Linked DNA regions of Homo sapiens: regions 2, 3 and 4 are each linked to region 1. The links come from fine-mapping of genetic effects on gene expression. A gene starts in region 1. Each other region holds a variant in brackets. All regions are shown on one strand. Distances are between the middles of the regions. Region 1 holds the start of CD96 (CD96 molecule). Region 2 overlaps PLCXD2 (phosphatidylinositol specific phospholipase C X domain containing 2). Region 3 overlaps CD96 (CD96 molecule). Region 4 overlaps CD96 (CD96 molecule).

What was found.
Region 2: its variant is fine-mapped to the expression of CD96 in whole blood (TOPMed, PIP above 0.99). The same link has a PIP of 0.9 or more in blood mononuclear cells.
Region 3: its variant is fine-mapped to the expression of CD96 in whole blood (INTERVAL, PIP above 0.99).
Region 4: its variant is fine-mapped to the expression of CD96 in whole blood (INTERVAL, PIP 0.96).

Annotation. Positions count from the first base shown.
Region 1 is chr3:111,538,876-111,547,151 of GRCh38, reverse strand. It overlaps CD96 (CD96 molecule), which reads right to left and starts at 4,955. Exons shown (of 14, transcript NM_005816.5): 1 at 4,843-4,955; 2 at 1,750-2,106. The coding sequence starts at 4,903. It overlaps LOC105374039 (a long non-coding RNA gene), which reads right to left. Exons shown (of 3, transcript XR_001740846.1): 3 at 5,149-5,217.
Region 2 is chr3:111,694,051-111,702,326 of GRCh38, reverse strand. All of the region lies in intron 1 of PLCXD2 (phosphatidylinositol specific phospholipase C X domain containing 2), which reads right to left. Among named protein-coding and RNA genes, the nearest start is that of PLCXD2-AS1, 21 kb to the right of the region's middle. The variant T/C (reference allele first, on the strand shown) is at 4,864.
Region 3 is chr3:111,642,784-111,651,059 of GRCh38, reverse strand. CD96 (CD96 molecule) reads right to left here. Exons shown (of 14, transcript NM_005816.5): 13 at 3,394-3,517; 14 at 1-1,362. The coding sequence ends at 1,254. Among named protein-coding and RNA genes, the nearest start is that of PLCXD2, 28 kb to the left of the region's middle. The variant TA/A (reference allele first, on the strand shown) is at 3,971.
Region 4 is chr3:111,616,236-111,624,511 of GRCh38, reverse strand. It overlaps CD96 (CD96 molecule), which reads right to left. Exons shown (of 14, transcript NM_005816.5): 9 at 690-758; 10 at 108-179. Among named protein-coding and RNA genes, the nearest start is that of ZBED2, 25 kb to the right of the region's middle. RefSeq lists enhancers at 7,008-7,508, 7,509-8,009. The variant C/T (reference allele first, on the strand shown) is at 5,047.

The DNA of each region.
Region 1 (8,276 bases):
AAAGAAAGCACTATAATTATCCATATTTGTTATGTAAGAAACTTGAAACAACTTGGGAATGATGAAACGTATGGTAAATGATAGAGCCAATATCCAAATACAGGCTACCTGAATCAAACTATGTATAGCTAAACAGTTTTCTATATAGGTCTTCCATTTCTCTTTACTTCAATCCCACTCCACTCCATCCTTAATTGAACTGAAGTGTGTGTGTGTGTGTGTGTGTGTGTGTATGTGTCTGTGTGTGTGTGTGTGTGGTGTGTTTTCCTCCTGGAAAACAGCAAGGGAATTGGGCATTATAAGATAGTAGTTGATGGGACCTTGGCCTATAGGTGGACTGTTCCAACAGCATATTTTTAAAGCAAGTAAGTTATAAGACATGGAGAGGAGGCTATAAATCCATACCTGTTGCTTGTTCTGGACAGCTCTATGCCCCCTTTAATATGACCTTCACGAGTTATTTTTTTTTCTTATATTACCAGGCCACTTTGCCCTGAGTTAGAACCAGTCCACTGCCAGTGCATTTTGCATCTGTTGGCTTTCACTTTCATTGTTTTCCATTAGCAGAAATGAAAATCATTTACTTTAGGACCAGGTAATTTAGGGCAGGCATTATTATAATCATTTTCCAAATGGGCTCAGAGAATTTACACCACAGGCCCCAAGTCAAATTTTATTTCTATTCAGAAAGGAGCTAGAACTTAAATCTAGGATTCCCACTTCTAAATGCAGGCCTCCAAAGTATGTTTGGTGTGAATGCTTCATAGTTAGCAGCTTCCTTTGTCCCTTTACCTGCCCTAGACTAAATATTGTATACCCAGAATCACTTTCATAAATTCACCCACAAACCTTCCTTTACCTTCCATCACAGTGAATAGCACCACCATTCAGGTGTGCATGCCAGACACCCAGATGTCACCTTTAACTTCTTTCTCTCCTTCCTTCATACTGCCCTTGTCTTATATTCTCTCTATGATCATATCTGTTTTATGCCCAATGAACAAAATTTGCCATTTTCCTTCTATATCTACCTGAACTACCACTCTCTCTTTTCTGGGCTACTGAGGTGGTCTCCTGAGTTGTCTCTACCTTCTCCTTCTTGTCCATCTTCACCTCATTTTCACATGAAAGTCAGTATGACTTTTTTTTTTTAAACAACACAAATACAGTCAGCCTATAAATGTCATGCCATCCTTTTGTTGGAAATACTTCCATGTCTTCTTATGGTTCTGAGATCAAAATAGAAACCTTTTAAAAGGGAAGCTGACCAGGTCCAACATGATCTGGTCCTTACCTGCCTTATCCTTTAATTGCTGTATTGCTGTCCCACTGGCATTTTCCCATTTCTTCAAACACTCCAAAGAGCTTCATGCAAGCTCTTTTCTCTCTCTGGGATTACTCACAATCCCACTCTGCCTCAGCCCCACCTCCTAAATTGTGGTAGTGTCTACTCATTCTTTAGACTTAAGCTATGGTGTTAATTTCTAAAGGACAATTTCAATGGCCTCTGTGATGTGCTCCTTCACAAGACTGTTACAGTATTTATTATCGACACTTATCACTGTTGCAAGTTTACATTTATTTACTTAAATGCTGTGGTCACTTCCTGTCTCTCTTATCAGACAGTAGCTCTTTCTGCTCAACCTTTGTATGCTGAGCACCAAGCCTAACCTTGCTTTTCTTAAAATGTACATTTGTTGAATGAGAGAGAGCTGAATGAAAGCACATCCCTCTACCAGTTATGCTTACCGTGTGTCTGAATGAGAAGGTTGTAGATTTTAGTCTGAATGCCCTCTGGATACAGAACAAGCATACACTCGTACCTTCCACTGACTGAACAAGACATATTCCTTAAGTGCAGAGTCCATTTTGACCCATTCTCAGGAGTTTCTGTGAAAGTCACAAGTGACTCACAGGGTCTCCCATAGGCACAGTAGAAGCCGTATTGGGGATGATAGACAGCAATCAGGTCTATCTTATTGGTGACCTTGGACCATTGCATCTGCACGAAGAAGCCTACTGTCTGTGTTTGGCAGGTCAGGTTGACATCAGAGCCAAGTGTAGCATAAACATTTTCTTCTGTGTTGACTGTTTTTTCCCAAACTCCTGAAAAGAAAGAACATGAGCCATGAGTTTAAATAATTCACATAGAATGACGCTTAATTAAAAACCCTAGTCACTTCAGTAAGGTGAGGGGAGCAACTGAGGAAATTTCTCCCTGGCTGCTTTAGGAATAGAGTAGAGCTTGTGTCTCACTCAGATAGAGATGCATGAGACAATATAAATGAGGAGGCATTTACGTAGAGAAGCTAGAGGTAATTACTGACTTCTAAATATTTATCTATGTGTTGGTCTGACCAAAATATAATTGAAGGTTTCAGACTACCTGTGAATAAAATTAAGCCTATTTGAAAATTGAAGCACACCAGCAAACTTAGTATGACGATTCTTCTTACGTTTAATATAATTGGCTTTTTGGGTTATAAAACGACAGCTGAATATAATACACACGTGATGCTTTCTGAAACTGCAAAAATAAATGATATGTGTATAGCAATTTCTTTGAAAAATACATGTTTACAAGGGCCTTTCATATCTTATCTTGTTTAATCCCCCTCACACGCCATAGGTGATGTTGTTAACCCCTTTTTATGAGGAAGAAACTGGGCCACAGAGAGATGAAACAGTATGCTCAAAGTCACACCTCCAGGCCTGGCGCAGTGGCTCACGCCTGTAATCCCAGCACTTTGGGAGGCTGAGGTGGGCAGATCATGAGGTCAAGAGAACCAGACCATCCTGGCCAACACGGCAAAACCCCGTCTCTACTAAAAATACAAAAATTAGCTGGGCGTGGTGGTGCACGCCTGTAGTCCCAGCTACTTGGGAGGCTGAAGCAGGAGAATCGCTTGAACCTGGGAGGCGGAGATTACAGTGAGCCGAAATCATGCCACTGCACTCCAGCCTGGCAACAGAGTGAGACTCCATCTCAAAAAAACGAAAAACGAAACAAAACAAAAAAAGTCACACCTCCAGTAAAAGAATGAATTCAGTTGCCCAGAGTCTGTGGTCTTTCTATAACCCTCATAAGTATAACAGTAAAACTCCAGCCAAGGAAGACAAAGAGACCTTTAGAGACCAAAGAGAACTTTATTTAATTCAGGCATCCAGGCCCACAGCAGACTCATGCCCAAAATGGCTGCTGACTCTGACAAAGAAAGCAGGCTTGCTTATATGTCGTTTGAGGTGGGAAAACAAGGCAGGATACAGGTTTCAGGCAAAGACAGTAAATTATTTAACCCGTGACAATTCTGAGAAAACTTACAATTTAGTTATCTTAACCAGTCAATCTTGAAGCTAGACAGAGATGGGGTAAGGTAAAACAGGAGTTACAGAAATATGTGGGGGTCTGGGGGCAGGCAAGAAGCTTGGAAGGTTGAGATAAGCTCACAGCTGCAACTTGTTAGCAATGCTGGGAGGGGCTACTTAAATTTCTTAGCCTACATATAACTTCTAAGTAACCTATACTTAATGTTAACTATTACCTATGTTATGCTTATTATTTTAAACTTTATTATTACTTATTTTATTTTATTTTCCTTCCACATAACTTCCAAACTGTCTCCCAAATTCAGTCTAGTTGATTAGAGTAAGAAATTTCACTTTCAATATACAAGGATTGAAAGGACCTCATCTAACCTTAGGTAGAGGTTCCACTTAGTATCACCTCTAATCGATGGTCTGAAATACTAGACATAAGTAGAGTCTCTTTCCCATCAGCAGTCTGACTGAGTGATACAGGACACTTAAAATGTGTTAAGCATTGAGACTGTGACATGCCTTCAATAGTGTTGGCCTCAGTTTTAGAATTAACATGGAATCCTGTTACAGAAATGATATATATTATTGTGACAAGTACCACTGAAGCTCACAAAAGGAAAAGATAAAAAGATGACAAGCAACTGAGAAGAAACAAGCCTCTTAAAAGTAAAAGTACTTGACAAATGGGAATTATCATACTTCTGTGGATGCAAAAGTTTGGTAGGCAGAGGTTAGTACAGTTTAATGTAACTTCCTGTGAGCTATCCTTTGCCTGAAAATATGGCTCTGATCCTATCTACAGCATTATATTCCAAATCTCTTTTGATTTAGAAATTCTCCTTAATATTTTCATAGCTATGTCTGAAAAGCACAGTTAATTCTTAAGACACTCAGGCTTACTATGATACTCTCATACTGTGGAATACAGAACTAATCTTGCTTCCTTCTCTTTTTAAATAGGCCCATTAGGCTCTCGTTCCCACTGTCATAAGGATTCCACTTTGTCTCCCAGGTTCATACCTACACATGCCTCATTAAAATTCAACGTGTTTTCAACTCCCAAAGACCTTAGTATTTGGATGAGAAATACTTGTTATATCCAAAAGAAAGAGAGTACTTGAGAGAGAAAAAAGTTAAACAAGGATCTCTGAGCGTTGATGGCTTTGTAATTTTTAATTTTTCCGCAGTTGTTTTGGCTACCATTTGGAGAGCATTTCATTTCCAAGAAACACAATTTGCCAATTACTCCAGAGATCCTGTTAGAAAGGAAATGGGTGAAAATGCCTCAGAGCAGTGGCACAAATGACCCATTCCCTTCTTATTTTTAGTGTTCATTAGTAATCATTTCTAGATTCTAGCATCTCTCTTATACCTGCCGCTTAAATACATAACTGAAACCCTTAGTAATGATTTGTCCTTTGGTGATCAATTTCAGCAGCAGTCACAAGGCATTTTAAATGAACAGAGGCCCCATCCGCCCCTAAAGCGGCCCATCCGACAAGAAGGGACAACTGGAAGTCTTACCCTTGACAAAATGTATCTGGATGATGTAATAGACAGCACAGTATTTCCATTTTTTCTCCATTGTCTTCTGAACACCTTACACCAGCATTTCTGTAATGATCACAAAGTCAATTGATGTTTTCAAGCAAACTCCAGCCACCCACTTCGTGCTAAAAAACCCGAACTCTACCACACACGCCTGGGTCTGTTTATCACTTGGCAAGCCCCCAGGAAATGAAACGTAGACAGGAAAGTAATGTGGTTCAGGACTGAGTATAACGTTCGACAGAACAATGTTGAAATTGTTCTCTGAAATTTGTGTATCACCTTATTTAAGAGACTTTTCAGTATCCAAAGAGTCTCTTATTCAGGATCTCTGTGTCAGTCAAGCTGCGTCTAAAATCCAAACAAAGGATATCACGCAGAGCAGTTGGCAATGTGCTTTTTATACATTTTTTTCAAGAGCACAAAGTCATTTAACAAATGTGAGCTTGGTGTTTTTCATAATAGTTTTTCTGTTCAATCTTAAGATATGTTTTCTTTCCAGAATTGCCCTGGGGTGAAAGAACAAAGAATTAACACATTTAATTTTAATAAAATCTGAAAAGTAACAGGGAATAGTGTCAGCTATCAAACCAAATTTTATTGTCTCTCCTCTTGCAGGGAAATGCACATTTCCTGGGAGTGGAGGAGTGAGGGCTACTTTTCTACCCCTCGTCTGGGAAGACGAGGGAAGGTTGGAGGTCAGATAGGGAAGTCTCCCACCAGGTTGGCTGGAGGCCATTTTTGTTCACCACAGAAGAGTTTATCCATGCCTAAGCCAAAGCAAGGCAGTAACAATCAGAATCCAAAGGCAGAGAATTCCCACCTCAGTGAGCTATTAGGCTTATTACATCTGCCTAGTTACTTCTATTTACAGAGAACCGCAAACAGGTTTCAGGAAAGTGACCCCTTGGTAAAAATGTCTGGCTATTCGTAGAACACGATGACTGTTCCCTGCTATGATTCTCTGATTTAATTGTATTAGTTTTTCAGCCTGAGATAAAATAGGCTGTCATCACCCTCCAACATTAAGAAAACAAGCATTAGACTGAGGACTACTGTAAGTTTGATGGACAAAGAATAACTACAAATAAACATGTGTGTCTTCATACAACCGTATGAATGATTAAAATATCCTGTGACCCTAATCTCATTACTAGAATATACGTACCACCTAGCAAGACCAAAGACAAATGAAAAGGCCAGTTGTAATCCTGAGATGGGAATTCTTTTCAGGTGAGGTGGAGATAATTTTCGTCAGGTTGTCATCATGTATACACCAATCTCTCCTATGCAAGGACTCGTGGTGAATATGGACGATGCTAAGACAGAAGGAAATGCTTTTGCCATTCAGGAGATTAAATTTAGATGGGAGAAGAGAGGTTTTCATGTAAATAAACAAGGGCGACTGTCTTCCTGGACGTCCAGATCACCCCCTATACCACCACTGCAAATACTTGCCATGATAATTGCCATACTTATTCAGTATTCCTCAGCTAATGATTTCTTGCAGAATTTAGATGTAGTTACTGCTTGCCTAGTCCAGTGCTCCCCAAACCTTTATTATCACCCCTTCCCAACTTCCCATGAGTTTCAGGTCACTGGGGATATTGGGTCAGGTAGTACTGACAGTGATTTTCCAGGGAAGGCCTGGGAACTCAAAGTCCTTTATAGAAGGTCAGGAAGAGACATAACTGCTCTGGGTAGCTTCATCTCTTCCCATTGCCCCTGGAAATTCTAGTAAATCAAAGTTTTATGAAGCATAGCAGCAAAAATAGTCCTGGAGATGCACTATGAAGATCCTGATTTGCACGTTGGTGTCCCTATTAAATCAGGACACATTACAAGCCTGGAGAAGGGATTCTATGATCTCGTTCCATTTTTCATATTAAGAGGAATTTACCTAAGTAGAAACCAATTCAAATATACATTTATTGAATTCTCTAAGAACAATACCCTCTTTGGGGTATTTAGACTTCTCCTATCTTTTATTGTATTAAAGTGAAACAGTTGTTCCAAAAAAGTCTGTAAACTCAGAAACATGGAAATGGTCGTTTATTTTCCAGTGCTACAGACTTACTTTCAGTAGAATTCTTGCCTCTCATTGGGGTTGGGCTACCTGAGCCATGCATTTAGTGGCTATACGGCAAATCTGTCTTCTGTGTATTGTTCAGGGCTTAGTTAATGATTCTTATATCTAGAAACTTCTATGGCCTGAAGCCATCAGATTTGATTAATTTTTCTTTGGGATCCACACAGGTTCTGAAAGTATAACAATTTCAGATGCATGGCCACAGAATATTAACTGAACGCTTACACTTCGGGTGTCCTGCAGCTGCAAGACCCAGGCAACAGCCCCTCCATGGCTGTTTGCATGCAGCAGGTGGCAGCAACACTCCGCAGACTGGCACGGCTATCCCAGGTGATGGGAATTGCCCCCACCGCCTTTCAATCCTGGTAATATTTTCTAAAGGCTCTTTCAGCATGGGGATAGACAGGCGTTCTCTATACTTAAAAATAACTCTTCTATGGAAGTCATGTCAATCTCTTCTATTATCCTCCCTACCCACCATATCCCGATTGCACAGGGTTTCTTCTGCCTTATAGTCTGCTGCACATAAGGAGAAAACAGAAGCAAGTCAGTTTCACACACAAAAAGAAATCGTGATCTTCTTGAACTGCAGAGGCAAATTCAATTATTTACAAAGAGAAGCAGGAACACACATTATTTCTGCTAAAGGCAAGCCATGATTGTGTGTTTTGGACAAACTTTTTAAATGCTCTAGCTAAACACACTCAGTGAGAAAAGGACATTTTCAGAAACAGGAAGTTGAGCAAAAGGTAAACTTACTTTTGTGGTTTTCATAATGGTTAACTCAAATATTACTTACTTATCTTTAAACACTTACTAAAAATAAAAATGGGAGTGCTATACTTTTGCATGTTTTCCAAAATGCTTAGAAAACATGATGGTTAAGGTTTCAGTTAATTAAAAAATACTTGCTGTATGTCAATTCTTAAGAGATTACTGAAGAGGCATAGTTCTAGATAATTTTAAAATACCAAAGATAAAACACAACCCTCAGTTTTAAGGCAGTTACCATTTAGCTGGGAGGAAGCATCCATGTGCACCAAAAAAGTCAAGCAGCATAAAGCACAGCCCAAATGAGAAGGTAGGGCAGGATTTTAGCAAAGGGGGAGTTATCTTAGGGGTAGAGTGGGCCAAGAGCATATGAAGTATGGAATCTAAACTTGGCCCTATAGGCGTCAGACTGGTAGAAACCGCAAGCTAAGTCATTCCAGGCAGAAGAAACAGGAAGAGCCAACACTTGACAGTGTTGAAGTTCAAGGCCATTTAGTGAGTGGGCTATTCCGGTTTAGCAGAGGCTGTATTAGGGGACTTGGAGCAGACA
Region 2 (8,276 bases), 160 kb before region 1:
CTAATTCAAATGGCCATATTCTTCTTGGTTTCTATGTGGGTTTGCCAAGTCAGTTTGTTTGTGGAACCTTCCATTCCCTTGTGCTCAGTGTATATTTCTGCACATTTCTGGGTGTTCCCATCCTTCCTTTACCTTCTGTCTGCTTTTTTGACTCGTCTTTATTGTCCCTAAATTTAAATGTTTTCCAGGGATCTGTTCTGTATTCACTTCCTCTGTCCACCTTCAGAGACTTCAGTCCCACTCCCCAGTTTACCACAGTATCATTATGCAGATGACACCAAAAGCTTCCTTTCTAGCCCAGACTCTTGTAAGTTGCAAACTTACATTCCCACCTTCCTGCTATGGCCTGCCTCCAATGGCCTGCTCACACAACAAAGTGCGTATTTTCAAAGTCTAGCTTCTCCTGCTGGCCCTCTCATCCCCACAAAGTGCCTCTCCTGAATTTCTGCCAGTAGTCACCCAGTCACTCAGACTTGAAATCTTGGATTCTATTTAAACTCTTCCCTCTCTCTCACCGTCTTCATTTAACCAGTTACCAAAACCTTACATTTGACCTTTGTAACATACATCAAACCTGTCTCTTTCATTAACCTTCAACTGCCACTGTTCTCATTGATAGACTCATTGCCTGTCAAATAGTACCAAAAACCACCCAAACAAACAGAAACCCTAATTTGGGTCCTTTCACTCTAATTTGTTCATACTTAAAAGGTAGTTTTCTTAAGATACAGCTTTGATTATGACACATTCCTCCCACTTCCCGCCTTCCAAATAAAGCTCAAACTCAACACTGGGGGTTTAGAATTGTCTTCAATATGGTACCAATGCATTATTTCAGACTCATCTCTTACCAGGCCCCTACTTATAGCCTGGAAACTGTTGGTATGCAACATACACAGATAGGCAGGCCCCTTTCTGGACTCTGTTCACTTTTGCTGATACTCTGTAAAATATTTTCTCACCCCAAATATGTCTATATTTTCTCCCCAGCATTTGTAACCCATATTGAGTAAGTTGCTTTTTCCATGTCTCAGTTTCCTCATCTGTCAAATGGGCCAATAGTACCTATTGTCACAAAATTATTGTGAATATTGAAATGTAAGCAAAGTGCTTTGAACAATACTGACACTTAGTAAGTGCTGAACTGTAATTATTGCTATTATTAGCCATTTTTAATTAGTCAGAAATCAGAGTGTGAAGGGCTGATTAACTGAAGCTTCTTGCCTTAAATACTGATGGTCTAGAAGATTTTATTTTCTGTACCTGATTCATTGTTCCTCTCTATCTTATTAGCTGACATGGAGATGAAAACTTAGCCTCCACTCTGTTGACTATAGCCACCACCACTGTTTTGGTCACAGTCTAAGTTTGTCATCACCCACATTGAAAATCTTAAAATTTAATTTCTGACTTTTTGATCACAAGTTTCTTTACTTCTGCCACGCTGCAACCTGACTTTTATATTCTGCCCCTGACCCCCCGCCCCGCCCTACACAGTCTGAGAGCCCACAGCATTGGCTTTACTTCATCCTTCAGTTATATCCAAGATCATCCACTTGCCAGTTTTCACCTGCAGAATTATTAATTATAACTATCTGAAAGCTGTTAAGAGCCTGCTGAGGTATATTGTCTGTCTATACAGTCCTGAAATACACATACGAATATTAATATGACATTTTCTAACACACCTTTTTACTAACAACAAATTTTTTTTTTCCTCTTCTCCAATATATTTCATTTATAGAGGAGAAGCAATATGATCTTAGGAAGTAATTGGCATCAAATACTAAATGACTGTTTTCAGACTTCTCTGTGCTGAGAATTTTATGGTCATCTAAAAACTATTCCATATATAGCAGTAAATATGGACATACAAGTCCCTCCTTAATGTTCTATATGCATAGGACTAATTTTAGCCCTTAGAAAGGTGAAGTTTTTTTCCTCCAGTTTCTAGAAATTGACTTTTCTCTAATCCTTTCATTTTCACAATTACTACCCCTGTTTCTTCCTATTTTCTTTTACAGTCAACAGTCATTAACGGTGTTTCTTTTTCCTTTCTGTGTGCATACAAAAATCCTGAATCATGTATGTGAAAGCACTTTATAATGTAAAGTGGTGATCCTCAACCTTAGATGCATATCAGAATCACTGGGAGGTGGCAGAGCAGGGGGCGCTTTTAAAAAACACCAGTGCCCATGAGCTCACCCCAAACCTTCTAAGTCAAAATCTCTCTGGGACGGAAGCTGACAAGCTTCTTGCTGATTCTAATGTATACCCAGGCTTGATACTTACAGCCACAAATGTAAGATTATAGTTTCCCAAAAGTTCTCTGATTTCTGGGCATGGTCTTCTCTGGCTGGACTTCTAGTACTTTCAAACCTTCAAATAATAATCTGGTGAAGTGCCTTTCCCATGTATTGGTAGATGCTTTCTTCATCACTCCTTTTGTTCTAAGATACACCCTGCCCTTTAACCAATTAAATAACCACAGCTTGTTTGTGAAGAAGAAAAATATTGGGAGGCCTTGGTTTCCTTATCATGCCTCCTAGTATGTGATTAGATTAGGTTACTTAAGGTTTACTAGGATCCTTGGGATGTGCGCTAGGTTACAGAGCTCAGAATCAAGTCCCTGTGGCAGCAAAGTCACACGGGAAGAGAGAGATTTGAATGCGAAAAGGTTAGCAAGATTTTTACTCAGTGTTATAGTTATTGCCTCCTAGGTAGTGTTAGATTATTTGAGAGGTAAGGTATGAGAAAATGAGCTAGCTGGCCTTGTGAAGACCAGGCACAATCAGTTTGCTCTTTATCTGGAACACAAATTACTGCTTGATTCTTCCTGAGGGTTGCCATTTGGGGATTAGAGATCTCAAATGAGTGCATTCTAGTTTTTAAAGCACTTTCATTACCCATTTCTTGCAAATTGGAGTAGCTGCCATTTTCTGAGCTCAAATAAAAAGAATTTAAAGCAGGCTTCTTGGGAACCTGGTTTATAAATAAAACAAAAAGAATTCAAAACACACACTATGAAATGATACATTTCATTACAGTACAATGGCATTTCAGATTACATGATGACCACACTTGTAGCCATGGAGGGAAGATTGAGACAAGAGTTAAGTGAAGCTTATAAGAAGATAGAGAGAAACTCCCCATCTGGGTAGGTGAGGATGGTGACCCTAAGTCAAAGAACTCCTGACTTCACATATTTAAGAAAACCTCCTGTCTTCACCTCCCTTAGGTCCTCCTGTCTCTAAGTCCTTCTAACTTTGAAGCCCATTAGTTCCTGCAGGTGCTTCACTGATCCCACTCTCCCCACCCCATGTGTATTGACACCATTCAGTGTATCTGTGCCTTTAGGCACTGACATTGCAAAAATTTGTTCTTAGGGAGTGAAAAATCTTATTCTTCTATGTACAAAGTACAGATACATCTGAGTGTTATAATTTCACAGGGGAGGAGGGGGGGAAATAAGGAATAGAAATGCCTAATAAGACTCCTTCAGGGAGTGATTATGAACAAAAGGCTGAGACAGACCACCACCCTAGACTGAGGTTCCTGGCTTGTCTGGGCTGAACCTCTGACACTGTCTCTTTTTATCCTTAATTGGCCTGCCTCTCAATGCCTCCAGCAATGTTTCCCTCCCATCCATAAGGTGACCCAGTACTGGAAGGTTCTATTCCCATCCCCTGTCTCTAGAACACTAATGGGTTGGGAACCACTGAATTTCTTCTTTTCCAGTAATCTTTTTAAGTATTCTCACTTGCAATTTCCAGGACTACCAACAAATCATTTTTCTGTCTACACAGTCCCAAAGGACTCAGACTTGCACTTTGTAAGATACTAGTTAAGAAAGAACTTCACAAATGGTGAGTCCTAACACCTAACTTAGTGAATTACCATAGCTCTGAATAAGCTAAATGGAGTGTCCCCGCAGTGGATAGGGGCACAGAGTCTGTTGTCAGGCTGCCTGAGTTCATAATCCTGGCTCTACTGCCTACTAGTTATGTGAATAAAATGCTGGGCCTCAGTTTCCTCATCTGCACAATGTGGACAACAGCAGTACTAACTTCATTGGTCTGTTGTGAAGACTAAATGAGTTAACTCAGGCAAACACCCAGAAGAGTCCTTGGCTAATAGAATGAGCTCAAACATGTTATTATTATTAATTATTAAGAAATTTGTGTCATCTTTTATTTGGATGATACTATCTGAGAAACAAATAATTCTGGTTTTTAAATAAAGCCATGAAACCTCAGTAAATATTTATATTTGAGGATCTGTCATGGCAATTAACATTTAGGGCTAGGAAAAATGAAGTCTGTAGTTTAAGTCATTTATTTTAGGTTACACCCAAAATCAACATCAAAAGGAGTAAGTTTGGATCATAGTATTCTACAGTTGAAATTCAAATTGGCACTAAAACTAAAATTATAAATTATTAATATCTCTAGTCTGCTCCTATGTCAGTACTTGGAAATAAATACAGTGACTACACAATTTGCAAGTATAAGACAGAAAATTCTGAGGATGTTCTTAAACTTTTTATTTTTAACAACATAAAATTAGATGTCATCAAGTGATTTTTATGGAAAAACAAATCCAACCTGTTGCCAAAAAGATGTTGAATGACAGATTTTTTGAGAGTAGAAGCCTATATAATCCATTATTTGAAATGGAAAAAACAGTAATGTCTTCCCAACCCATCAAAAAAACCCTATCAGTTTTCTCAAATACCAAATATCATTAAAACACTCAAACACCAATGTAATCATCCACAGATAATCTTTCCCTAATATAAACAGCAGAACCAGTAATATTTTCAGAAGTTTTTCTGTATTTTTTTCTACAAATTAAAAATATTAA[T/C]GCATAGTTCTTAGAGATGTAAGTATGGCCAAGTTTATGTTAGTTCATCTCTCTCAATATGCTTTATCACCCAATTTTTCTTTTTAGGCCTCTCGAGTGTGCTTGTTTTATTCAGAGGCTTTTTGCTTTCTTAGAAGACATTCTCACTCAATAATGTGGTAAGTTGAGAGCGCTAATGCACAGCTCGAGCCTGCTGGGAGGGTAGCTGAACTATGGATGTAACACATTCTCCATCTTTTTGACAAGGTGTACCTGCAACTTAAATGTTTTTGCTAGCTCACACGATGGGATTTTTTTATTTAAGTAGTGAATTCTGGATAAAATAAATCTTATAAGTTATAGCAAATGTTTGGATAGCAAGAGTTTGGATGGAATATCTACAGACGTGTTTGGAGCTAAGGTCTTCTCGGTTACCAAAGTATTTATGTGCATGTCTATGTGTACATGTTGGCACTAAAACTGGCCCATCTTAAATGAAATCCAGAAAATTCTCTTATTCAGTGGAAAAAAAGCCCACCTTTCATTTATTTGGAAATATGTTTACTAATATCAATAGAAAACTTCTAATAGATAATAATTATTCTCTAAAAATTCTTTTAAAGACAAATATTATTTTGAGCTCATTTTTGAGAGTCATCTAAATGCCATGTAAGCTCCAAATTTTTATCAAGACCTAAATCATATTATTTCTATCAAAACTAAGATCATCTGGTCGGTCCATCGTAAGCTTGGGCTAAAAACATATATTGGATATGCATGTATTTTCTATAACGAATAGTCAGAGTGTTCAATTAAAGCTTGTCTATTTTATCTCAGTCTGAATTTTAGGTCACATGTCTGTAATTTGCATATTCTTTCTCTATTAGCCTATACTTTGTCAAGTGAGGTCAGAGTAATGCAGGCAGCTTGCAAAAAAACCAGGTGCGGCTATCTTTCCAGTTACCCACTATAGCTGATGCTGCATAAAATTGCATTGAATGTCAAATTTAGTTTTCCTAATTAATAAAAAATATATAAACTAAAAAAAATTCTAGGCAAATTAATAAGATCTCAGCTGCAAAGACTCTTCCCTGCCCAGCAACAGCAAAAAGATATTAAAGGTGCCCAAACACAAAAGACCAAAAAAAACCCTTTGCTCACACTTTATCTTAATAAAGCTAAGTAATTCATATGATGCTAGCTACCAGAAGGTGTCTGGGCAGCAGTAAAGGCTCAACTAGGTCAGAAGACAATCTGTGCAAACAGCAGAAGAGAAAGCAGTATCATGCTTATAAAAAGATAGAAGATATAAGTGTTCAAGCCAAGAAAAAGAGTAATTTTTTCCCATCTCTGAAGGACGAAAATGAGAACAGATGCCCCCCTCCAATGGAATTGAATCAGAGATGTCCAGCTAAACAATAGCTCCTCCTCCCTCATCACTGCCATCTTTGAGGGTTTCAGAGATGTCAACCTCATGAGTTGTTAACCAATTTTAAAGAGTTGAATTTTTCTGAGAAAAAATAGTAGTCCCTTCTTATTTGCAGTTTCAATTTCCACAGTTTCAGTTAGCCACAGTCAACTGTGGTCCAAAACTATTAAATGGAAAATTTAAAAAATAAACAATTCATAAGTTTTAAATTGTGCCCCATTCTGAGGAGCGTGATGAAGTGTTTTGCCATCCCACAGGCCTTCCAGCCCAGGATGTGAATCATCCCTTTGCCTAGCATATCTACTTGGTAGAGGTTCCCCAACCATTAGTCACTTAGCCATCTCAGTTATCATTAAAACACTCAAACACCAATATAACCATCAACAGATAATCTTTCCCTAATGTAAACAGCAGAACCAGTAATGTTTTCAGAAGTTTTTCTGTATGTTTTCTACAAACTGAAAATACTAATGATGAGTTCTTAGAGACATAAGCATGGCCAAGCATGCCTGTTGCAGTTTCACAGTGTTGGTTTTCCAGGAACCCTAACTCTACTTGAGAATGACCCCAAAGTGCGACAGCAGTGATGCTGGCATATTGTTATAATTGTTCTATTGTATTACTAGTTATTGTTGTTAATCTCTTACTGTGCCCAATTGATAAATTAAACTTTATCATAGGCATGTATGTACAGGAAAAATTACAGGATGTATAGGGTTTGGCTCTATCCATGGTTTCAGCAGCCATTGGGAGCCTTGGAACATACCACTTGCAGATAAAAAGAGACTACTGTAAGAAGATTTTATGATTTGATTTATGGAGAGCCAGAAGACCCTATCTTCATAGAATTTCTATTAAAAATGTTTCAACAAGATTTTTTTTTTTTTTTTTTTTTAGAAAATGGGTAAAAAAATGAGATTTAGGCCCTCAAACACATTATCTCACTAAAAGTGCTTGGATTTTAATGACTTATGATTTTTAAGAAATTCAACATTTTTTTCAAATGTACTAAAACGAAGGCAGTCAAAACATTCCCACTCAAGTTCACCCTGATTAAAAACTCTGAATATATTCCTGAGGTTTAGAGAAACCACTACTTCATTTTACAAATGGCTGACAACATATGTCTCAATATGCATACAGGCAATACAGGCAAAATCAGCAGGCCAAGTTTCTGGAAGAAGAGCCATTTAGGAGCTGCTCCTCCTTCAGCATGAATGTCCACTCTCAGACTTTGACAGTGATGAGGATATGCCAGAACACCTCTCTGGCCCTTCAGAGAGCACCGGCCTAGCTGGACTCCGGATCCCTTAGGGTCCAGCTCTGACTTCCCATGGAGGCTGTCACCAGCTCACTTCCCTGTGGAACATCTTCCTGACTCACAACAGCAGCCAGCTCTGCCAGGACTATGAGCTTCCAGGTACAGCCATGTTGAGGGGCATGGCCACAGAGCAGTGACTAAAGGGACTAGTCTACAAAGGATGTTAAGATATTGCTTGGAAAAACTGCAAATTTGGTGCCAGTTGCTGCAGGTTTTCACCAGTGACTCCTTATGAAATGGGCAAGATGTTAAAAAAAAAAAAAGCTCTCTTCAATGCACATAGTAAACTCTTTATCTTGAAAATGAACATGCGATAAGAGAAAAAGTCATTTTTAATCACCACTCTCCTCTAAGCACAGTGAATACTGGTAGCTGGAGTATCTTCTGTTTGCTGAGCACCAACTGCAATATTCATCTCTGGCATTAATAGCTTTTGACATACTTGAAGCAGTATTAAGCAGTGGGTAGGGGTATGCCAATTTAGAGATAGACTCTTGGAAAGACCTCAGTGGATCTGCTGAGGAAACAGAGAGAGGTTGAGAAGCTGGGAGTGAAGGCTGAGGAGGGTGAGAATCAAAGGGGAAAAGGAGAGGGATCAGAGGGGGCTGCAGGGCTCAGAAGAAAGACTCAGGAAAGGAGGCAAACCTAATAGAAAATTTTCAAAGCTGCAGTATACTTTCACTT
Region 3 (8,276 bases), 100 kb before region 1:
TTTAAGAAAAAGACATAATCTCCAAATAACTCTGCACAAGGCATTCTCATGTGCAGTCAAGGATAAGCATACTGCAAGTGAACTAAAGTTTCCTTTTGGGACTAAAGTCCACACAGAATTTGCCTATCACTCTATCTGTCAACAACATCTGTTTTTCCCTCCTGGAGCAGGGAGTGTGGGAAGGTTTCAAGCGACAAGGAGGATTAGTAATTTATTCATTCACAAACTATTGCTGAATACAGAGCACGTCTGGCTGACTAGGTTTCTTCTCTGACACCTATACATTCTGCTTCAACTGCTTTAAAAAAGATTGGTAGGAGCAGGGTTAATTAATCAGTGCTGGTCTGATTTGAGGCTCTTTATCTTTTTCAAAACAGATCAAAACAGGCAGATTAAATGAACAGGTAAATCCCCAGATGAAAAAGAGAATAACTGGAATTAGAAAGTAGGGTTGGGCTTAGGCTGCCTGTTTACTTACAAAACAGTTTGGTTCCAGTTTGATGGACATACACACGAAGGCACTCAAATGAAACCACTCTTGGCTAATATAATTTTAGAGGCCAGTGGAGTTTTGTATCTTCTAGGCTACTGGGTTTTTGGCTAATTATCTCTTTGATCCCTCTTCATCCTGGTCCATGTGGCAGGAGTCTGGGCTGAACATGGTAGGAAGACAGTGAAGGAGGATTGAAAATGTGGTTCCTGTGCAAAGTATTCTGTTTCCTTCCATGAAAATAAGCAACAGAATTTCAATATGAAGACTAACCATACTTCTCCATTACTTGGCAGCCTTGTTAGCACTTTTACATTTTCTTTTTCCTGTAATTATCTTAGGGAATGCAGCAAAGCCCCAGGATTTTGGCAAAGAGTTTACAATGTTGATAGATGTTCAAATAAGAGGATCAGGCATGGGCATACAGTTGAAACCATTGTTGTCCCTCCATCAGAGAATTTAAATGAAAATACTGTATTTTTTTTTAAAGATGGCAGACTAATATGTACTTCTTACATAAGCAAGAAAACCACTACGAATTGCATTGAGTGTGAACATGACATATCCTCTCACTCTTGGTTAAGCTTCAGGCGTTTGGAGATGGAAGAGGGTGAGTTGCTGGGAAAACAGGTCACTCACTTCTGACTTCCATTTCAGCTGCAGCAAAGGCATGGCTGAAGAGCGACTATATTAATAAAGCACAATGTCTACCTTCTCAATAGGATTCCAGCAGAGTTCTGCCATGGGGCAAAGTCTCACGAGACTAGAGGGTCTCCATCTCATGATAAGGCAGATCACTTTCGTTGGGCTCTTGAATGCAAGTGTACTTGATGGGAGGTGGTGGTGGCTTGAAAGGTGGAGGTCTTTCCATTCTAGGAACAAAATATTGGTCTTTCAATGCTAAGAATTGAGGGAGTCTTATGCACACACACACACAGACATGTGTTGTTTCTTTAAAGGAGAACACAGATTGATGAGAAAGAGACATACTCTCCCAGTTCTTTCAGCATTTTTGCTGGCATAACCCTGTGCCTGTTAGTCACATTTGAACCTCATGATCTATACGGTATTTTGTAGTTTGCAAAGAATTTTTATCATAACATTATTTACTTTGTATGTAGAAATTGCCTCACCATCTACAGATAAAACTGAGCATTTTTATCATAACATTATTTACTTTGTGTGCAGGAAATGTATCATAACATTATTTACTTTGTGTGCAGGAAATGCATCACCATTCTACAGATAAAACTGAGGCTCAGAGGTTTTAAACAACTTGCTCAAGAGAACCAGACCAACAATTCAAGTCTTTTCACCAGAACTGATACTCTCCATGACAACTGCCTCCTAATAGAAGAAATGTTTCTTTTATGTGGATTAAAATATTCCTCCAGAGACTAAATCTTAAAATCCTAGGATTTAAGACTGAAGCTTTTCATACAGCCTCTTTGCTAACCCTAGCCCCAGCCTTTGCCCAAACACTCACTATGTACTGCGGGGATAGGGTAGAGATGGGAAGTAAAGCTCTTCTCAATCCCCGAGTACTGGCTAGATAATGCCTAAATCCCTTTTGTTTGAATCAGTGAACATTCTTAAAGTCATCTTTGTACAAAGAACTATTTTATGTTAGTACAAGTAATCTCTTTTTCCGAAATGCATTAAAGAGCCAAGTTAGTATGGAATTTAGCTATACAAATGCTCTAGCTATCTTGATATCAGGCAACAGAAATATATCTGTGAACATCTTTATGTTCATCACTCAAACACCTCTATGCCCTGGCAATCCATAGCATCTTAGGAGAGATAAAGAGTGGGTAGTGGGGGAAGGAGGATAGAGAGATTGATTCTCATCTCCATATAAAACAAACATTTGAATACAGAACAATTTAAAAAATCAGTTCAGATTTTCAGATTTCATTTGTTCATTTAATATAAAGCTCTCTAATCCCTATTACCCAATTTTTAGATGCTTTAATGGAGACTTCATATGTATTAATAGGTAATTCTACGAAACATGCACTTTTGTTTTACTTTTGTTTTTTGGGGAATTATGAGTTTCTCAAGGTCATGTGGTGGCCAAATTGTAGTCCTTGGAAAATAATCCAGAATTTCTAACTACTGGTTTAGTGTTTTGTTCACCACTCCCTGTATGTGGTTACAGAGTCTTCAAGGATACTCTGCAAAAGGTAGGAAAGTATATGGCACAATGGTTAATGTTATCTTAGAGTAGTAGTAAGACAAGTGGAAGATCAGTTCTGGGTACTGGGGTCCCTTCCAGTTATGGCCCAACCCAGACTGACTCAAAATAGCAAGTCAGAAAAATGAGGCTTAACCTTATGTACCATTTCAGACTGCCGATTGGAGAAGGCTTTTGGAAAATATTTCAATAAGACAAAAATGGGGTAACCCAATGCTTACTTTCTTTTCTGCTTGGGAAAAAAAGAAAAGGGCAGTAAAAGCCCACTCTGGTAAAAAAAGCAGCTGGAAATCTCTTAAAATTACCTTTCTCACTCAATTTCACACTTGAGCATCTATGACCAGTGGAGCCTAGGCAGTTCAAAGATGCATGAAAATGAAAAAATAATGAAGATTAAAAGAAAAATCAGTTTTAGTTTTGAGGAGAGGTGAGGCTCAGTTCTCATTTCATGTCCACGGACTTGCTCTATCTGACGAATGTTACAGCCTGACTAGGCCAATGCAGAGAGGGATACTGAGTCAGGAGTTGTGTATTTAATCCCAACTATGTAATGCTGGGAAAGCTATATAATCTCTCTGAGCTTCTGTGAGCATTATTTCCCCATTAAAATATGGGAGGAACTTCATAGAGTAATAATATATTGTACTGATGAATATTTTATAATGAAAAATTAATCTGTTCCTACATATGTTAGTATTATACTCACATTTCTTTTTGGTACTGACACCATTTTCTCACTCCAAGACCAAACAATATCATGCAGCAAAAGAGTAAAGCTGCTACAATCACTGGCCAGGACATTCCATCTTTGGGCTTATTGACCACAATACCTGAAAAGGGCATAAAGAAAGATGAACTTTAATCCCAAACTTTGGCATTTGGAAAACAGGATTAAACCATTTTTCCTACGTGAAACATATTTTCTTCAACATTGGCTGTGATCATACTCTGGAGGTGGGCATGTCTAAGCCTTGTTACCTACATGAGGTGATAACTTTTAAGAGTTAATTACGTACCCTACCAGAAATTTTCTGTGGATATATATAAGCATACATATGTACCATGAATATATACCCTTTTTATTACAGTTGGGGGCATATTATACACACTATTCTGTCCATGATTTCTTTTTCTTTTTTTTCACTATTTTAGGTTCAGGGGTACATGTGCAAATTTGTTATATAGGTAAATTATGTGCTGTGGGGATTTTGGTGTACAGATTATTTTGTCACCCAGGTAATCAACAGTGCCTGACAGGTAGGGTTTTTTTTTTTTTTTTTTTT[TA/A]ATCTTTACCCTCCTCTCAACCTTCAGTAGGCCTCAGTGTTTGTTGTTCTTGTCTTTGTGTCCATATGTACTCGATGTTTAGTTCCCACTTAATAGTGAGAACATGCTGTAGATGGTTTTCTATTCCTGTGTGAGTTTGCTTAGGATAATGGTCTCCAGTTCCATCCATGCTGCTGCAAAGAATATTATCTCATTCCTTTTTATGGTTTCATAGTATTCCATGGTGTATATGTACCACGTTTTCTTTATCCAGTCACTGTGGATGGGTGTTTAGGTTAGTTCCATGTCTTTGCTTTTGTGAATAGTGCTGTGATAAACATACGTGTCCATGTGTCTTTATGGTAGAACAATTTATATTCCTTTGGGTATATATCCAATATAATGAGATTGCTGGATCAAATAGTAATTTTTTTTTTAAGTTCTTTGAGCAATAGCCAAACTGCTTTCCACAATGGCTGAACTAATTTACATTCCCACCGGCAGTGTATAAGCATTCCCTTTTCTCCACATCCTCACCTGCATCAGTTTCTTCTTCTTTTTTTTTTTTTACTTTTCAGTAATAGCCATTCTAACTTATGTGAGATGGTATCTTATCGTGGTTTTAATTTGCATTTCTCTAGTGATTAGTGATTTTGAGCTTTTAAAGTATCCTAAGAAGGTAAAAATCATTTTACATTTTTAACATTTTACATTTTACATGTTTTTTTAAGAATAAGAGGCCAAAAGACATACACCTGGCCTCTTTTTCTTAAAAAACATTCTTGGAATACTTTCCATATCACCACACAGAGATTTACCTCATTCTATTAGATGACTGGATAGTTCAATGGATATACCAGTTTATTTAATTTATCTCACGATGTTAGATGGTTAAATTGTTTCCAGACTTTGTTATTGCTAATGATACTCCAGTGAAATTTCTTATACATGATAGATAGGTCTTTAGGTATTTCGATTACATGGATCATTTGGGCAAAAAGCTATCTGGATTGGTTTTCTTTCCTTGTCTCGGCTAGGTAGTAACTGCTTGTGAGTGAAGACAAGGATTTAAATTTATTTCATTGCCCCGTTTTTATTACACTGCTTTTCATATAGCAAAATCTCAAAAAATACAGGTCAAAGAACTAGATGTAATATTAGTTATCACATCTTTTCTGTGTTTTTACATAGCCTGGACTGAAACCATGTGATGTTATCATGTTAGCATTGGTTAGAAGTGTTGAAGACAGTTCCCTTTCATACAACATACATCCAGGGATTCGAGGTCTTCCTGATTCTCACCCCTGTCAAAGTAGAAACTGAGGGTTCCCTGGAGACCCATGTAGTCCAATAATACATAATTATGTGACACATTGTATATACAGATGACTAGAAAGTTTACATAGTTCAAACCACTAGAGTAGCATGATCATGAAAGAGACAATTGGTCAACTCAGGACTAGACAAAGTTCTGTTTCACACAAGTCAAAATTTACTAAGCTCTACCATGGTAATATGGTGGGATATAATATTTTACGTCCAAAGTTTTAGATAAAGGAAAGAACAAAAGGTTTTATTTTATTTTTTTTTTCCATAAGTTATTGGGGTACAGGTAGTGTTTGATTATATGAGTAAGTTCTTTAGTGGTGATTTGTGAGATTATGGTGCAGCCAACACCCAAGCAGTATACAGTGCATCATATTTGTAGTCTTTTACCCCTCGCCCCCTCTCATTCTTCCCTCCAAGTCCCCAAAGTCCATTGTGTCATTCTTATGTCTTTGCGTCCTCATAGCTTAGCTTCCCACATATCAGTGAGAACATATGATGTTTGGTTTTTCATTCCTGAGTTACGTCACTTAGAATAATAGTCTCCAATCTCATCCAGGTCACTGCAAATGTGTTAATTCATTCCTTTTTATGGCTATGTAGTATTCCATAGTGCATATATATATATATACACCACGGTTTCTTTATCCACTCATTGATTGATGGGCATTTGGGTTGGTTCCACGATTTTGTAATTGTGAATTGTGCTGCTATAAACATACATGTGCAAGTATCTTTTTCGAATAATGACTTCTTTTCCTCTGGGCAGATATCCAGTAGTGGGATTGCTGGATCAAATGATGGCTCTACTTTTAGTTCTTTAAGGAATCTTCACACTGTTTTCTATAGTGGCTGTACTAGTTTACATTCCCACTAGCAGGGTAGAAGCGTTCTCTGTTCACCACATCCATGCCAACATCTACCATTTTTTTTGATTATGGCCATTCTTACAGGACTAAGGTGGTATCGCATTGTCATTTTGATTTGCATTTCCCTGATTATTAGTGATGTTGAGCATTTTTTCATATGTTTGTTAGCCATTTGTATATCTTCTTTTGAGAATTGTCTATTCATGTCCTTAGCCCACTTTTTGATAGGGTTGTTTGTTTTTTTCTTACTAATTTGTTTGAGTTAGTTGTAGATTCTGGATAGTAGTTCTTTGTCAGAAGTATAGATTGTGAAGGTTTTCTCTCACTCTCTGGGTCATCTGTTTACTCTGCTGACTGTTCCTTTTGCTGTGGAAAAGCTCTTTAGTTTAATTATCTTTGTTTTTATTGCATTTGCTTTTTATCTTTGTTTTTATTGCATTTGCTTTTGGGTGCTTGCTATTTATCTTTGTTTTTATTGCATTTCTTTTTGGGTTCTTGGTCATGAAATCCTTGCCTGAGCTCATGTCTAGAAGAATTTTTCCAATGTTATCTTTTAGAATTTTTAGTTTCAGGTCTTAGGTTTAAATCCTTAATCCATCTTGAGTTGATTTTTGTATAAGATGAGGATCCAGTTTAATTCTCCTACATGTGGCTAGACAATTATCCCAGCACCATTTATTGAAAAGGGTGTCCTTTCCCCACTTTATGTTTTTGTTTGCTTTGTTGAAGATCAGTTGGCTGTAAGTATTTGGGCTTATTCTGTTCCATTGGTCTATGTGCGTATTTTATACCAGTAGCATGCTGTTTTGATGACTATGGCTTTATAGTATAGTTGGAAATCAGGTATGTGATGCCTCCAGATTTGTTCTTTTTGCTTAGTCTTGCTTTGGTTATGTGGGCTCTTTTTTGGTTCCATATGAATTTTAGGATTGTTTTTTCTAATTCTGCAAAGAATGATGGTGGTATTCTGATGGGTATTGCATTGAATTTCTAAATTGCTTTTGGCAGTATGGTAATTTTCACAATATTGATTATACCCATCCATGAGCATGGGATGTGTTTCCATTTGTTTGTGTCATCTATGATTTATCTCAGCAGTGTTTTGTAGTTTTTCTTTTAGAGGAATTTAGACTCCTTTGTTAGGATATTCCTAAGTATTTCATTTTTTTTTTTTTTTTTGCAGCTATTGTAAAAGGGGTTGAGTTCTTGATTTGATTCTCTGCTTGGTTGCTGTTGGTGTATAGATGAGCTACTGATTTGTGTACATTAATCTTGTATTCGGAAACTTTGCTGAATTCTTTTATCAGTTCTAGGAGCTTTCTAGAGGAGTCCTTAGGGTTTTCAAGGTAAACAGTCATCATCAGCAAACAGTGACAGTTTGACTTCCTCTTTACTGATTTAGATGCCCTTTATTTCTTTCTCTTGTCTGATTGCTTTGGCTAGGACTTCCAGTACTACATTGAAGAGGAGTGGTGAGAGTGGGCATTCTTGTTTTGCCCTAGTTCTAAGAGGGAATGCTTTCATCTTTTCCCCATTCAGTATTGTGTTGGCTGTGGGTTTGTCATAGATGGTTTTTATTACATTAAGGTATGTCCCTTGTGTGCCAATTTTGCTGAGTTTTAATCATAAAGGGATGTTGGATTTTGTTGAATTTTTTTTTGTATCAATTGAGATGATCATGTGATTTTTGTTTTTAATTCTGTTTATGTGGTGTATCACATTTATCGGCTTGTGTATGTTAAACCATCCCTGCATCCCTGGTATGAAACTCACTTGATCAAGGTGGATTATCCTTTTGATATGTTGTTGAATTTGGTTAGCTAGTTTTTTTTTTTTTTTTTTTTAAGGATTTTGGCATCTATGTTCAGCAAGGATATAGGTCTGTAGTTTTCTTTTTTGGTTATGTCCTTTCCTGGTTTTGGTGTTAGGGTGATGCTGGCTTCACAGAATGAATTAGGGAGGATTCCTTCTTTCTCTATCTTGTGGATAGTGTCAATAGGATTGGTACCAATTCTTTTTTGAATGTCTGGTAGAATTCTGCTGTTAATCCATCTGGGCCTGGACTTTGTTTTGTCGGTAATTTTTCTTTTATTTATTTATTTTTTTTTTAGGCGGAGTCTCAGTTTGTCAC
Region 4 (8,276 bases), 77 kb before region 1:
CATTTGCAAATATTATTACAAACAAAGCACATAGATGTCGTTCAATATATCTGTCGGATGAATGACTGAAGTCCAGAGGACTCAAGGGACCCACGATTATACTTAACATTTTTTGGTATCTGTCCCACTGGAGGTCCAGGGATAGTTGAAGCCTCGGGTAGTCATACTGGAATTGCTGGCTGAAAGACAAAATTATTTTCAGAATCCAGCTTTTTTCGAAAGCTGTAATTTAACTTTGCTTTGATGCACAGAATTTTTAATCTATGTGACTTTGGGGAAATCTGAAATTGAAAATGTGCTTCCCTATGCAGGAACACTAGCTGGCATATTAAGCAAAAGCTCTGTAGTTTATGTTTAATGCCAGCTTGTCACTGATTTGTGTTCTTTTTCTGTTCTTGTCACAAACTCAGATCACTGAGAGTATTGTGAAGACTACTTTAATATTACCTTAAAATCCCTTGACAAATAAAAGATACAATATAATAAATCACCAGCCCTTATTTTTTAAGATTATAGAAATTGTCATATCAATATATAGTCACCGCAGAGTAACCCAAAACCAAGATATTAACAAACATCAAATGAAAAATACAGCTGTTTGCTGAAACGTCAACATTATAGAAGCAGTAGTAAAACTTGTGAGTGTGTTGTCTCTTTCCAATCATGTAGGAAAACTTTGCTGAACTCACGTTGAGGAGTGGTGTTTGGCCTCAAGGCACTCACATCTACAAGGGTCACTGAAGATGTAGCTGGATATCCTATTTTGAAAATAAAATTCCCAAATTATTATATGTATTTACATTCGTATGTTTAACTGTGCCACTACATTTAACAAGAGCCTGGAATATTAGAGTTGGAAAGAATCTTAGTGAACAGCCTCATTTTATAAATGATGAAACCGAATCCAAAAGGAATATGCTTGTGGTTAAATAATCAATATCCAATATCATTTCTTTGCTATTAACCCGGTTTCCTAATTCTAAATGTATTATATTCATACTTTCAAAATATATTATTTCAGTGTCTACTGTATGCCAGACTCTATTCTGCACGCTGGGGATATAGTAATAAACAATGAAGACAGGGTCCCTGCTCTCATGAAACTTACCTTATAGTGAATTTTCACAAATACTACTGTGAAAACCGTATCTTCACATGCTAAATATGGTTTCATATTTACTTCAATTGTTAGTTTGCAAAGTCATTTCTCCATCTTTATACTCCATAATTGTTACATTCTCTTCCTTCCCCCTCACTCCCCCAAAATGAAAGACTGATTCATATTCATTTGAAAATAGCTCTATATTTTAGAACTATTATATAAAGCAAGGTAGATTAAAGAAGAATATCCAACAACAGTCCATTGAAATCAGGTTTATATCTCTTGGAAATAAAAATTTTAAATACATTTTGTGTGCATTTCTCTTTTGGTCCAAAATGTATTTAAGGTGGTTTATATCAATGTGCAATACAAGAAGATAAAAGCAGAAAGGCAAAATAGGAACAAGGAAAATACAGTAGAAAAATTATGTTGAGTCCTGTTGAAACCTAAACAGGGATAGTGGACAAAGTGCATTTCCTGATGTCTTATGCTCTTAGTAGATGTGGGCCCCACATTTGGTCTGACCTTTCTGGTAGGAAGTGCTAAGAAATAAAGAGTATAGGTTATGTGCTTGATGAATATAATAAGATAAAAACAGTATTATTATGAATAGCTAGAGAAATAGTTATTCTTTTTGTTGTGATTAAAAAGAAACTTTTCCCCAGATCTTCATAAAAAGAATGCTGTATAATTGTGTAAAGTATCCTATAAAATATCATTACAGTATGATAGCCAGTATGTTCATTCATCCTCAAGCTTTAGTTGGTAGTGAATGGCAGCCAGCTTTCCTGGTACCTCAGTTATGTGAAAGGACATGCCTTAAATAGAGAACATGGGCAATCAAATCAAATGAATAAGTTGGCATTGTGGTTAATGCATTTATAAGTAGTTCACATCCAGAGGTCATCAATGATAACCTTTTTTTGCAATGCAGCCTATCAATGAACTACAAAAAGATACTTACACACCGTGGCTTCATGATTAAAAGAGTCATACATATAAAATACTTAGAAGAGTGCCTGACATGTAGTAAATGCTAAAAAGTATGTCTTAGAATCTGTAAAATAGGTCACTTGCAGTTTAGCAGATGTTGATAATACAAGCATATTCTAACTATAGGCCACTTGAATCTCCTGAGGAGTTCCACAATTACCCCATTTACCTTGGTCTTTCTGGAAGAAAGTTGATCTAAGGTAACTAATTCTTTCTTCCCCAGGCCTGGCCCAAGTCAAGAACTACATTCCAAAGTGTTGCACTAGAAAAGGGCTAATAGTCAGAAATACAGAGTGTGATAGTAGGCTGGGGCATTAGCTTTGTGGTAGGGTAATAACTTCTCACTGGCAGAATCACCTACAATTCTTCTCCTCTGCCATCCCACTGAGCCATCAGTACCAGATTCTTGTGCGGTAATTGTAACTTCTAGCTCACTGCCTCCCACCATTCATCAAAGGCTGTATTAATAGAAAAATTGCACAAGATTGACTACCTAAAGCATATATGATGCTTTTGTAGATTGCTTTGAACTGAGTATTGGAACTACATTCCTAGTCACTGTGGAATTGCTCTTATATAGTACTGAGGATTTTCCCATTGGCTGACACTAGATGACAGTCTAATACGATGCGGGGAGGGGTCGCCATTGTTCACTTGCAGTGAGAAAGTCCCTGGGACTGTGCTCCACCACGCCCTCTAGAGGAGGGCCCAGGCAGTCTCTGCATTAAGAGCGGCTGTGCTTCTGGACAACTGCCTTGTTATACCATTTTACAAACCTATGGATCACCAAGTGATTTATAATTTTATTTCTGTCATTAAGAAGACTTTGCTTTTGTTCTCTCTGCAGCAATTCCTTCAGTTACCTCTTTTCAAAATTCTGTATTGTTATGTATTTTTAAAGTTACTTCATATTCCTTTTGGGACAAGACAAGGTAAAAATTATATAGAAGAAAATAAATAAATTAGGTATAAGTAATTTGAACACTGTGAGATACTGAGAGATATGATAGGCTCTTCCTAATGAATAAAGATGGTTCTTTCCTCCTTCCTCCCCTACCTTCTCTCTCTCATGCTGAGAATTAACCTCCAAAAGTATTTGCTGAGAGACTTGGTAAGTAAATTCAAAGGAATTGTTCTTAACAGTGGTGCTATGATAACAATTGTCATAATGAGGATGATGAAAAAGATCTAGGAAATAAACATCAAAGAACTTAATATTTATTTGTAAACTACATGACCACTACCTAGAAATCTCAGTCTAATAAGCAACTGCCAGCAGCCTTTAAAAATATATCTTACCTGCAAGCAACAGACACTTTCCTATGCCAGCCTGGTTGCCCACACTGGGTGCTGGCACTGACCAGGACATGTGATTTAATTCTGGCAGGAATCACAGGAATCCTGATGAAGTATAACTTGATTGGGAATTTCATTTATATTAAAATGACTGATTAAATGTTCTCTTCTGGAGGTCAGAAAATAATGTGACATAAATCATTTCTCAAGGGTTACTGCAGGAGAAGGAGAACTCACTCATTTGATTCTACCTATTATGTTATTTAGGGACCTTGTTGGGGGAGAAACATGCCTCAGGGATGCATGCTGCCTTAATCCTTGTGTGACTATGTCTCTGCCCCAACTTAGACATCTATGTTGCTTTACCCTTCTCACACACAGTGCTGTGGAGTACATTGAGGGCTGAATACATGCCAAGTGTGGGGAACAAAAAGATCAATGATACCTAGTCTCCTAGTCTCTTTCCCCAGGGAGCACAAAGTTATTTCGCTCCTATTGGTCTCCAGCTGAATTTTCTTTAGACTTTCACTTGAGGGTCTGAACCAACTTGACAGGTTATTGGGATAATGACCCCTTTACTATGGGACCTCACTCATTATGTAGAAGTCAGAGTTAAAGTCTTTTAGAGAACTATGTAGTTCCTAGATAAATTAAATCTACCCCTCTCTCTCCCACTTTACACTGTGGTTCAAGGTTAAGGCCCCTTCACATTCCATGACCTGATCTCTAAAAACCTTCACATAGTCCTCTCTTGATACTCCCTGCATACATTTTTTTTGTTTGTTTAACCAACATTTGAGAGTCTCTAAATTTCAGGCACTGTGCTTGGCACTGGGAATACTGCTCTCCTGGAGTTTAAGTTCATGAAGGAGATGGACATCAACCAGACGATCACATAAGCCAATTCAAATGCTAGAACATATTAAAGCAGGGGTAGCCCAGTCAGAATCCCAGGAAAGCTTTCCCAAGGAATTTAGTGGGAGATTGTGGCCAGCGGAGGGAGGGTGGGAGCTTTCAGGCAGAGGGCATAGCCATGCAAAAGCCCAGTGTGTGGTCTCACATGTCATGGATTAGTAATAGCCATGTCTGGCACCTGTCCATTCCAGGGCTGGGCTTTTACAAGCCCTCAGGGGTGTTTTTTCCATGTGCTGAGTTGAACTGGATGTGAGAGCTAGGTGGGGCGTTACCTGCCAAAGTGCATATCCAAGACAAAAGCAGCAGGAGAACAGTGACCAAACTGTGGCACAGTGTGCAGCAACACTGCTTATTTCTTAGGAGTTTTGTTTTGTTTTAAAAAATCCCTTCTTAGAACCTGACCTGGAGATTCTGTAACTATATAAGAACATGTCTGACTGTCTCTTGATATCATGCAGAGAATTAAAAAATTTTATTTGCATTCCTCATAGCCATGTTTTTGAAAGATTCATATTGATCATATATTTCCAGATGTGAGAAAGCTTGCTTTGTACCTTTTGTTTTAAGGCTAAGTTTATATTTCACAACATAGCAAAATCTCTTCAATATTCAATAGTGTGTTCTAAATCATGAGATACTATGTAGGCAAGTAAGATGACAAACTCTGTGATAGGGAGTTGATGGCTTTGTTTGCTGATTGTTTATTCCTTCTTCAATGTAAATGTTTATTATTATCAAAT[C/T]TTGCAAGTATCCAGAGTTACACTATAATGACCCATGTCTCCAGGAAATAAGATGAAATTTAGAGGTAAACACTACTTCACACAAAATGTTTTGTTTATACTAGCTCAGAAATGGCCATGAGGTTACATGAGGAGGTTTGAAGCCTTCCTGGCTCATTTCTATTTTAACTCTTTAAAAATTTTCTCACTAAAATAAAAAAAAACCCACCCTTTTATGCTATCACTGGAAATTCAATTAAGTTAGAAGACAGCTCCAGTCAGTGCTGAATTGAGTGGGCAGACAGAAACATGTTCTAAAAGAGCTAATTCTGGTCATCTCCATGTGACATCATTAAGCAGAACTGAATCTCTTAACCTATACTCTTGCCAGTCTTCCTAGTGACCTAACTGCTAGAGAAAGGAAAGGTAGAGGAAGGCTAGAAGACCTATGGTTGATTAACTTTTGGGAAATACTGAAATATTTTCCAAACAACATAGATTTTAAAAATAATTTAATATGGACCTACTATATGCCAAATAAAAGAAGCAAGTGAGCAGTTGCAAAGTAGCATAAGTGGAGCATAAAGAATAAGCTGGTAACTTAAAAAAAAAGCGAGGCCGGGCGCAGTGGCTCATGCCTGTAATCCCAGCACTTTGGGAGGTTGAGGCGGGTGGATCATGAGGTCAGGAGATTGAGACCATCCTGGCTAACACGGTGAAACCCCCGTCTCTACTAAAAATACAAAAAATTAGCTGGACATGTAGTCCCAGCTACTCGAGAGGCTGAGGCAGGAGAATGGCGTGAACCTGGGAGGCGGAGCTTGCAGTGAGCTGAGATCGTGCCACTGTACTCCAGCCTGGGCAACAGAGCGAGACTCTGTCTCAAAAAAAAAAAAAAAAAAAAGAGAGAAATAAATTTGGTCATTGTTTCCTCCTTCAAGGAATTAAAAATTACATATAAAGGTCTTGATTTATTTTGAGATGGTTTTTGCTTACTAGACTCTTAATCATGACATTTCTTCTCAAACTGGACAGTATGAGTCGTAGCTTCATTGTTGTTTTTTATGCACTTTCACATTTGATTCTCCTAATAATTGTATGAACTAGATAATGTTACTCTCATTTTTTTAAGACAAGGAAACTACTACAGAGGTGAAATTGTCACGGGATCCTTGAGGTCTTGCTTTGCCAGCCAGAAATTCTGTGGCCAGTGGCACCTTCTGCCTGAGTATTGCTCACACTTCTGGGCTCATTCCACCCACTTGGTTTGGCAGGCTGTGCTTGGTCTGTGCTACCAGCCTGGATCCCACACCTGCCAAGGGTGAGCCAGGTGCAGAGCAGCAAGGGGTGTGTGAACGAGTGAGCGTGGGGTCTGGCCACTGCACACAGCCAGGCACACTGGCTGCTGAGGCAGGGTGGGAATCTCCAGGCTCCAGCATGGGTGCCGACTCTGTGTGATGCTGCTGCTGGACCAGATGTATGGCAAGCAGTTTCTGCTGCAGGCACTGGTGTCTGGACAAGGGGAACACTGTGGCACCAGAAAGCTTGGAGATGCCAGGAACTGTAGAGCTCCAAAGAGGGTTTTACAGCCCTGGCCTGGGAGGCCTTAGGTCTGGGCTCCCTGAAGGGCCACAGCTCTTCTCTCCTTCTCATTGCTTGCAATGTGGTGAGCAGGTGGGAGGTGTGTTTCAGCTGGGTTTGTGTTACAACTCTTTCAGTCCCACCATTCAGTAGGTCCCAAGTTCTTGTCTCGCCCCCAAGAAGAACGAGGTATGCTGACAACTGGAGGGTGAGCAAGGTGGAGAGGAGCTTCACTGAGCCACAGAACAGCTCTCAGGAGACCTGAAGTGGGTAGTTCCTTTCCATATGCAGGCTGTCCCAATGAGTGTCCAGCTCTCAGTGGAGAGGAGACCTGTAGTGGGTAGCTCCTTTCTGCAGGCAAGTTGTCTGGATGAGGAGACCCATAGTGGGTAGCTCCCTCCCACAGCTGGTAGTCTTGACTTCTTTCTGAGTCTGGCTGAATCCCCGGTTTTTCATGGGCTCAGAAGGGAGAAAGTGCATGGTGATTGGTCCATAGATGGCCATAGGCAGGCCAGGAAAAAGCACTATCCAATTGGCCCAGTGGTCATCGATGAAGTTATTACTCATATCCATGGACTTCACTTGGAACTGGCAGCCTGGCTCCCAGGCTTCAGGCCATGCCTGGCCTGAAGGTGGGGTTTCACTGGGGACCTACACCTTTCCATCCAGGAACCTAGTCAGCCTCCCACTGTCATCATGCCTTCCATAGCCCAGGCTGTTTGCACCAAATGGCACCTGCAGGCCTGCACCCAGCTGCCCTCAGCCCATCTCCACCTGCTGCCTCCTTCCTGTGCTCCTTGGCGCCCAAAGTCTGGAGGGGGCCAAGGTGGGGGATTGGTGTGTCAGTGCTGCCCCAAGTGTGCACACACCTGGCCAGGTTGTGACAGTGCCTGGGCTGAGCCTCATCTTTGCTCTGAAATTGGAGCAGGTGCTGGGAGTGGGAAGAGTCCAGGGGGTGGAAGCAGGCCCTTCTGAGCCTGCAGAAGCGGGGGTGTTCCCAGGCCCTCAAGAGAGCAGGGGTGTCAGGGTCTGGAGCCACAGCTGGGTGGCTGCAGCTGCCCTGAAAGCCCAGGGCTCCTGCCTTGCCAAGTCAGTAGGGGGCAGGCTCCCTCCTGTTCTCAGCCTCTACGGGCTCAACAGTCCCAGCCAGGCCTCCCTCACTACAGCTGGCATCCCCACAGCAGCTAGTCCAGTCGGGCAGCTGCTGCCATCAGAATGACTTGCTCTAGGCTACAGAGCCAGTAGGTGGCAGAGACAACAACTGAACCCAAGGCTGTCTGACACTAAAGACTATATTTATTCCATTCTGGTAGCCTTATAAGTGTAGTTAGCCTTGCTGCAGCATGCATCATCATCATCAGGGCCTAGCCACGGAAGAGCTCACTCATGATGTCTAGCACGCAACCACCCAGAATAGCAGGCCTTTGATAGCTTCTCTTCCTGTCCCACCACCACCTTTCAGCTTCCTGTCCCACCACCACCTTTCAGCTTCCTGTCATAAGGCTACCCAGACATCAGCCCTAGCCAGATGGCTTTTCTTTAGGGAGATATCCTCTGCATTCCCTAAAGCCTTCCTTTGTTAATCTCTTCTTTTTTATACTTAAAAAAATTCTCCATTTAAAAAATATTTACTGAATTATCAATACTTATTGGTAACCATGTGTTATCAT